Regions from separate parts of the Homo sapiens genome. Here region 1 is linked to region 2. The links come from fine-mapping of genetic effects on gene expression. Tissue or cell type: whole blood. Region 2 holds a variant in brackets; the other region holds the start of a gene. All regions are shown on one strand. Distances are between the middles of the regions.

The links. PIP is the estimated chance that this variant, and not a neighbour inherited with it, causes the effect.
Region 1: AZU1 starts here. The variant in region 2 is the best candidate, but not a certain one, in a credible set for the expression of AZU1 in whole blood (TOPMed, PIP 0.71).

Annotation. Positions count from the first base shown.
Region 1 is chr19:825,190-829,569 of GRCh38, reverse strand. AZU1 (azurocidin 1) reads right to left here and starts at 1,733. Exons shown (of 5, transcript NM_001700.5): 1 at 1,666-1,733; 2 at 1,184-1,340; 3 at 1-8. The coding sequence starts at 1,723.
Region 2 is chr19:1,076,180-1,080,559 of GRCh38, reverse strand. ARHGAP45 (Rho GTPase activating protein 45) reads right to left here. Exons shown (of 23, transcript NM_012292.5): 11 at 2,515-2,703; 12 at 720-857; 13 at 442-632; 14 at 181-305; 15 at 13-96. Among named protein-coding and RNA genes, the nearest start is that of ARHGAP45, 11 kb to the right of the region's middle. RefSeq lists a silencer at 3,025-3,114 and an enhancer at 3,285-3,424. The variant G/A (reference allele first, on the strand shown) is at 2,262.

The sequences.
Region 1 (4,380 bases), 250 kb after region 2:
CGGGGTTCCTGAGAGTAGCGGAGGAAAGGGCAGAGGGAGGACACCAGGCTGGGGCCTGGGCACAGAGCAAGCCGGCTTGCAAATTAGGGGGGATCCCAGCCTGCAGACTGCAATCCTTCACCCTGAAAACTCCCCCGCTTTTACAGAAGCAGAGCCGAGACTTTCCAGGGCCCCCTTCCCATCTTGAGCCCCTTCCCTTCTCTGCGCCTCCTCCTCCATCTGAGCCCCTTCTCTTCTCTGCGCCCCCTCCTCCATCTGAGTCCCTTCCCTTCTCTGAGCCTCCTCCATCTGACCCCCTCCCCTTCTCTGCACCTCCTCCATCTGAGCCCCTTCCCTTATCTGGGCCTCCCCCATCTGACCCCCTTCCCTTCTCTGCACCTCCCCCATCTGACCCCATTCCCTTATCTGGGCCTCCCCCATCTGACCCCCTTCCCTTCTCTGCACCTCCTCCATCTGACCCCCTTCCCTTCTCTGCGCCTCCCCCATCTGAGCCCCTTCCCTTCCCTGGGCCTCCCCCATCTGACCCCCTTCCCTTCTCTGCCCCTCCTCCATCTGAGCCCCTTCCCTTCCCTGGGCCTCCCCCATCTGACCCCCTTCCCTTCTCTGCACCTCCTCCATCTGACCCCCTTCCCTTCTCCGCACCTCCTCCATCTGAGGCCCTTCCCTTCTCTGCACCTCCTCCATCTGAGGCCCTTCTCTTCTCTGCACCTCCTCCATCTGAGCCCCTTCCCTTCTCTGCACCTCCTCCATCTGAGCCCCTTCCCTTCTCTGGGCCTCCCCCATCTGACCCCCTTCCCTTCTCTGCACCTCCTCCATCTGAGCCCCTTCCTTTCTCTGGGCCCCCTCCTCCATCTGAGCCCCTTCCCTTCTCTGGGCCTCCCCCATCTGACCCCCTTTCCTTCACTGCACCTCCTCCATCTGAGCCTCTTCCTTTCTCTGGGCCTCCTCCATCTGACCCCCTTCCCTTCTCTGGGCCTCCTCCATCTGAGCCCCCCAATATCCTTGGGTCCCTCCTCAACTCAGTCCCCATTTCCCTCTCCAAGCCCCCTCCTTTCCCTGAGCCCCTCCTTTTGCAATCCCCTCCCCTCCTCACCTACCAAGCACCCCCACTGAATGCCTAAGCCCCCCAAGCCCCTTCTCTGAGCCCCAATGCCCCCTAGGCCCCCTCCCCAGGACCCCTCACTGGCTTTGGAAGCAGCTGGCCGCGGTCATCACGAAGCGGGCATGGATCAGGGCACCCCCGCAGAAGTGCCTGCCTTGATTCTGAATGGAGGCCAGGAACGGGAACTGGCGGGGCCTCGCCTTCCGGCCGCCAACGATGTCCAAAAGGGGGCTGGAGCCTGGGTCGGGGGGAGACAGCTCTGAGATCCCCAAGAATCCACACAGTGGCCGGGAGGGCGTGTGAAGCTGCAGCCTCAGCTCTATCCACCCAGTGGGGCTGCGGGGGGACCCACCCTCCCCCATCGTCCCACTCCCTAAGAGGACAGGGGGCCCCTGAGTCCCGCACACCGTCCGCCCTCACGCCTTTCGCGGGATCGTCCAGGCCGGGCTGGCTGTGTGACCCAGGCCAAGCCGCTTGCCTTCTCTGTGCTTTAAGTCTGAGTTCTGCCCTGGCAGCCGGGCCCTAGCACAGATGGGGGACCACCGGCACAGAGAGGCACTCACCGGCCCTCGAGGACGCCAGCAGACCAGCCAGCAGGGCCAGGACTGTCAGCCGGGTCATGGCGGGGCAGGTCTGTGGCTAAGGCGGCGGCTGCCCTTATACACAGGCCTTGGCAGTTGGTGGCGTCCCCGCCCAGGCCCAGGGACAGCCCCACTCAGTGGGAACACGGGAAATTGCCCAAGGCCTCCACCGCCAACTGCTCCCTGGGCCAGCCTGGGCTCCCCCTACATTCTGCACTGATCCTCAGTTTCCCTCTCTAGAAGATGGCCACACCCCCAGGGGCAGGTGAGGGTGTCAGGAACCAGTGGATCCCGGAGCCCAGCACATGGCGGGCATGCAGCCAGCACCCAGGAACATTGCCAGCTCAGAGTCCCAGTCTCCCCATCCCAAGCCACTGGGGCTCCAGCACTGCCCGCTGGGCCTGGCACCGGGGGGCTCAGGGCAGTGGAGCTGGCAGTCCTGCGTTGAGTCCTGCGCGTCTGTATGGGTGATTATTATTATTATTATTATTATTATTATTTTGAGACGGAGTTTCGCTCTTGTTGCCCAGGCTGGAGTGCAATGGTGTGATCTCGACTCACTGCAACCTCCGCCTCCCAGGCTCAAGTGATTCTCCTGTCTCAGCCTCCTGAGTAGCTAGGATTACAGTTGTCCACCACCACGCCTGGCTAATTTTTTGTATTTTTAGTAGAGATGGGGTTTCACTATATTGGCCAGGCTGGTCTCAAACTCCCGACCTCAGGTGATCCACCCACCTCGGCCTCCCAAAATGCTGGGATTACAGGTGTGAAACACTGTGCCCGATTGGGTGATTTTTTTAAACTTTTTCAACAGCTTTATTGAGATATAATTGACAAGCTGGGTGCGGTGGCTCACACCTGTAATCCTAGCACTCTGGGAGGCCGAGGCAGGCAGATCACCTGAGGTTGGGCGTTCAAGACCAGCCTGACCAACATGGAGAAACCCCATCTCTACTAAAAATACAAAATTAACTGGGCGTGGTGGCACATGCCTGTAATCCCAGCTACTCAGGAGGCTGAGGCAGGAGAATCACTTGAACCTGGGAGGCGGAGGTTGCAGCGAGCCGAGATCGCACCATTGCACTCCAGCCTGGGCGACAAGAGCAAAACTCCATTTCAAAAAAAAAAAAGAAATTAGCTGGGCGTGGTGGCGGGCGCCTATAGTCCCAGCTACTTGGGAAGCTGAGACAGGATAATCGCTTGAACCTGGGAGGTGGAGGTTGCAGTGAGCCGAGATTGCGCCACTGCACTCCAGCCTGGGTGACACAGAGAGACTCCGTCTCAAAAAAAATAAATAAAAACAAATTAAAAACTATATAAAAATAAATAGACGAAATGTCCAGAACAAGCAAATCTGCAGAGGCAGGAAGTGGATCTGTGGTTGCCAGGGGCCGGGGGAGGGCAGGGGGTGATGGCTGATGGATGGAGATGGGGCTTCCTTCTTTGGGGTGATGGAATGTTCTGGGACTGGACAGCAGTGATGGTTGCACAAGTCGGTGAATGCACCGAAAACCACTTCACTGTACCGTTCAAAATGGCTAATTTTAAGTTATGTAAATTTCATCTCCTTCTTTTGTTTTTTTCAGAGTTGAGGTCTCGCTGTTGCCCAGGCTGGAGGGCAGCGGCACCATCTCAGCTCACTGCAGCCTCAATCTCCTGGGTTCAACTGATCCTCCTGCCTCAGCCTCCCGAGTAGCTGGGACCACAGGCACCCGCCACCGTGCCCGGCTAATTTTTGTATATTTTGTAGAGATGGGATCTCACTATGTTGCCCAGGGTGGAGTGCAGTGGCACGATCTCAGCTCGCTGCAGCCTCCGATTCCCGGGTTCCAGCAATCCTCCTGCCTCAGCCTCCCAGGTAGCTGGGACCATAGGCACATGCCACCATGCCCGGCTAATTTTTGTATTTTTTTGTAGAGGTGGAGTCTCACTATGTTGCTCGGGCTGGTTTGAAACTCCTAAGCTCAAGCAATCCACCTGCCTCGGCCTCCCAAAGTGCTGGGAGCACAGGTGTGAGCTACTGCGTCCAAACTCACCTCCATTTTTTACAAAGGGGCTCATTTCCAAGGTGAAACTGAGGTCTGGAGCTTACCGTGTCCCCCACACCCTTGGGGACACCAGTTTGTGTCTGGGCCTGTGGGAGCCCTCTGAGGGCAGTTTGCCCCTCCAAGGGGCGGATACGGGGAGAGTCCAGGGAGGCGGGGCCGGTGTGCCTTGAGGTCCGCTGCCCATCGGGAATGTAGGGTCCCAGGGCTCAAATCTGGTCTCCAGGCCGGGAGCGGTGGCTCACACCTGTAATCTCAGCACTTTGGGAGGCCGAGGCGGGCGGATCATGAGGTCAGGAGATCAAGACCTTCCTGGCTAACACGGTGAAACCCCATCTCTACTAAAGATACAAAAAATTAGCCGGGCGTGGTGGTGGGCGCCTGTAGTCCCAGCTACTCAGGAGGCTGAGGCAGGAGAATGGCGTGAACCCAGGAGGCGGAGCTTGCAGTGAGCCGAGATCGTGCCACTGCACTCCAGCCCGGGAGACAGTGAGACTCCATCTCAAAAAAATAATAATAATAATAATAATTCCGGTCTCCACTGAGTTTCACAGCCCAGCCACCTCACAGGGTCCATGGCACAGCCCCCAGATCCCTGCCTCCGTCCAAGCCAGCTCTCCCTCTCTGCCCACCCCGGATCCTACCTGTCCAT
Region 2 (4,380 bases):
AGCCTCCCTCACCTGCGCCAGGGCCGGGGTCCAGCCCACTGTCCGAGTCTGAGATCGAGAGCGGCCATGACTTGTGAACCTGGTGTCCTCGCCCGGCTGGAGAAAGAGGCGTCTCTGGTGAAGGGCCAGGGTGGGTCGCAGGGAGCCAGCGTCCGCCCCTGGGCCCCGCCGGACACTCACCCCTGTGGTCCTTGGCAGGTGTGCCCTCAGTGCACCCGCCTTCTTCTGGGGGGCTCCCGGCAGCCTCCGGCCGCGCCACATCACTCACGTTGAAGCTGCTCTTCCGGGCACGCATGACGGGGGACCTAGTGGAAGAAACCGGGAAAAGGAGGGGAGGTGATGGGGGGCAAGACAGCTTCATCTTCATGCCCCCGACAGAGGGAAGCCCGGCTCCCAGGCAGGGCCTTGTGCGCCGGGGACAGGGCAGCTGGGTGGCGGTACCAGGCGTTGGCGGAGACGTGGGGCTCAAAGTCGTAGTGCACATCGGGCTCCTGGTCCCGCTGCAGCTGGCGCACGTGGGAGGCGTACTGCTGGCCTGGGTCATACAGCTTGCTGCTCTCACACAGCATCTGGAAGTGCACGGGCAGCGGCGCCGTCTGCATATGCATCATCTGGTAGTAGGAGATCGTGGCCTGCGGGCGGCACCGGAGAGCGGAGGGGTCAGGAGGAGGCCGCCCGGTCCACCATCCCCGCCCGGGCGGCCGGAGCACCCCACGCACCGACTTGATGGTTTGGTCGCTCTGCCGGATGACCTCCTGGATCTGCCGCAGCGCCGTCACCTTGGTATCCTCCAGCTCCTGCTTCTGCGTCTTCGCGTCGGCCACGCAGGTGCGGTAGGTGGCCATAGCTTCCTCCGCCTGCGGTGGGGGCGGGGCGCACAGAGAGAGGCCTCAGCCCGGGGTGCAGGACTCAGACAGAAACCTCAGGGAGGCGGGGCTGACGCCTGTCATCCCAGCGCCTCGGGAGGCCACAGTGGGAGACTTGCTTGAGGCCAGGAGTTCGAGACCAGCCTGAGCAACATGGTGAGACCCTCCCCATCTTTTTTTTTTTTTTTTTGAGATGGAGTCTTGCTCTGTAGGCCAGGCTGGAGTGCAGTGGTACGATCTCAGCTCACTGCAACCTCCACCTACCGGGTTCAAGCAATTCTGCCTCAGCCTCCCAAGTAACGGATTACAGGTGCCCCCCACCCACCATACCCGGTTAATTTTTTGTAATTTTAGTAGAGATACAGGGGTTTCACCATGTTGCCCAGGCTGGTTTCGAACTCCTGGCCTCATATGATCTGCCCGTCTCAGCCTCCCAAAGGGCTGGGATTACAGGTGTGAGCCACCACACTCAGCCTGAGACCCCCATCTTTATAAAGAATTTTTTTTTTTTTTTGAGACAGAGTCTCGTTCTGTCGCCCAGGCTGGAGTGCAGTGGCGCGATCTCGGCTCACTGCAAGCTCCACCTCCCGGGTTCATGCCATTTTCCTGCCTCAGCCTCCCGAGTAGCTGGGACTACAGGCGCCCACCACTACGCCCAGCTAATTTTTTGTATTTTTAGTAGAGACGGGGTTTCACCCTGTTAGCCAGGATGGTCTTGATCTCCTGACCTTGTGATCCACCTGCCTCGGCCTCCCAAAGTGCTGGGATTACAGGCGTGAGCCACTGCGCCCGGCCAAGAATTTTTTTAAATTAGCTGGGTGTGGCGGCACACGCCTGTGGTCCCAGCTACTCTAGAGGCTGAGGCGAGAAGATTGCTTGAGCCCAGGAGGTAGAGGCTGCAGTGAGCCATGATCACGTCACTGCACTCCAGCCTGGGTGACAGAACAAGACACTGTCTCAAAAATAATAATAATTTAAAAATCGGGGCCGGGCGCGGTGGCTCATGCCTGTAATCCCAGCACTTTGGGAGGCCGAAGTGGGTGGATCATGAGGTCAGGAGTTTGAGACCAACCTGGCCAAGATGGTGAAACTCTGTGTCTACTAAAAATACAAAAAAATTAGCTGGGCTTGGTGGCAGGGTGGCTGAGGCAGAGAACTGTGTGAACCTGGGAGGCGGAGGTTGCAGTGAGATCTCACCACTGCACTCCAGCCTGGGCAACAGAATGAGACTCTGTCTCCAAAAAACAAATTGGCCGGGCGCAGTGGCTCATGCCTATAATCCCAGCACTTTGGGAGGCCGAGGTGGACGGATCACGAGGTCAGGAGATCGAGACCATCCTGGCTAACACAGTGAAACCCCGTCTCTACTAAAAATACAAAAAATTAGCCAGGCGT[G/A]GTGGCGGGCGCCTGTAGTCCCAGCTACTCGGGAGGCTGAGGCAGGAGAATGGCGTGAACCCGGGAGGCGGAGCTTGCAGTGAGCCGAGACTGTGCCACTGCACTCCAGCCTGGGCGACAGAGCAAGACTCCGTCTCAAAAACAAACAAAAAAACAAAAAAACAAAAACAAAGGTCTGGAGGTAGTAAATGTCACACCAAGCATTGGATCTCCTCCTCCAGGGACCTCCAGCCCTGCCTCCACCCGCCCTCACCTTGTTCTTGGCCTCCTCCTCCAGCCGCCGCCGCTTGTCCAGGGTCTTGGTGGCCGTGCTGCCTGCTCCCGGCGCGCTGCCAGCCTGCTCCTCCTCCGCCTTGGCCACGAGGAAGCGAGCCTTGTCGTGGTCCTCGCAGCGCTGCACGTAACCCTGCTTGGCCTTGCGCAGGTTGGACTCCGCCTCTTGCTGTGGGTGTGGGAGCCAGGAGGCCAGTTCCAACCCTATCCTCGGATGGGACTCAGTCTCCCCAGCTCCTCCTTTCCTCCCCACCCCCATCTCTCTCAGCAAGGCCCCATGGCCCAGCTGGGCATGCAGAGGACCCTGCACAACAATCGGCAGCGGAAAAACAGGAGGAGTGGCCGGGCGCGGTGGCTCACGTCTGTAATCCCAGCACTTTGGGAGGCCGAGGCAGGTGGATCACTTGAGGTCAGGAGTTTGAGACCAGCCTGGCCAACATAGTGAAACCCCGTATCTACCCAAAATTTAAAACAATTAGCCGGGCATTGTGGTGCACGCTTGTAATCCCAGCTACTCGGGAGGCTGAGGCACTAGAATCGCGAACAGCTTGAACCCAGGAGGCGAAGGTTGCAGTGAGCCAAGATTGCATGCACCACTGCACTCCAGCCTGGGCAACAGAGATTCCAGCTCAAAAAAAAAAAAAAAAAAAAGAACGGGAGGAGGCACCCGTAACAGGACACTCGGAGAAATGGGTGTCCTGTGTGCCCACTCTGCAGCCCGGGAAGCTGAGGTGCAGCCAAGCTCTGCACAGAGGCTCACACGGCAGCCTCTGCAGACACGCACACCAGCCCCCACGGGAGCGTCTCCGGGCTCTTTTGCTTTCACTTCCCTCCTCACAGACGAGAACAGAGAAGCCGCCCAGGCAGGAAGCCAGGCGCCCACAGGTTGGCAGGAAGAGCACTTAGTCAAAAACCTGTGGGCTCGGGGGCCACACCTCACAACCTGCACCATCAGATTCGCACACAAACAAACGGACTCATCCAATTACTAGGAGACCGCCAGGCGCCATGGGTCACACCTGTACTCCCAGTGCTTTGGGAGGCCGAGGCAGGAGGATCACTTGAGGCCAGGAGTTTGAGACCAGCCTGGTCAACATAGTGAGACCCCATCTCTACAAAAAAATTAAAAAATTTAGCCAGACGTGGTGGCGCACACCTGTGGTCCTAGCTACTCGAGACCAGCCTGGCCAACATGATGAAACCCCATCTCTACCAAAGATATAAAAATTAGCCAAGCACGGTGTCTTATGCCTATAATTCCAGCACTTTGGAAGGACAAGGTGGGCAGATTACCTGAGGTCAGGAGTTCGAGACCAGCCTGGCCAAGGTGGTGAAACCCCATCTCTACTAAAAATACAAAAATTAGCCAGGCATGTTGGCTGGCGCCTGTAATCCCAGCTACTTGGGAGGCTGAGGCAGAAGAATCGCTTGAGCCCAGGAGATGGAGGTTGCAGTGAGCTGAGATCGATCCACTGCACTGCAGCCTGGGCAACAGAGTGAGGCTCTTGTCTCAAAAAAAAAAAAAAAAAAAAAAAAAAAAAAGACTACTGCCAACAATCACAGGTTTCTACCTGGCAAAATAGGCCACAGGTAAAAATCAAAAGTCAAACAGTAAATTGTGGGAGGGGAATGGGGGGAGTCTAAAACTCACATGATTAAGGCCTAAGTTCTCTAATATGTAAAAAGCTCTGACAAATCAATGATAAGCCACTGTCCAGTACAAAGTAAGCAAAGGATAAGAACTAAGCAAAGGTTAAGAACTGAGGGTTCACAGAAGAGGAAAAGCAGGGCTGTGGCCTGGGAGGGTAGCTCATACACGCACGCCCCTTGACCCAGCAGTTCTATT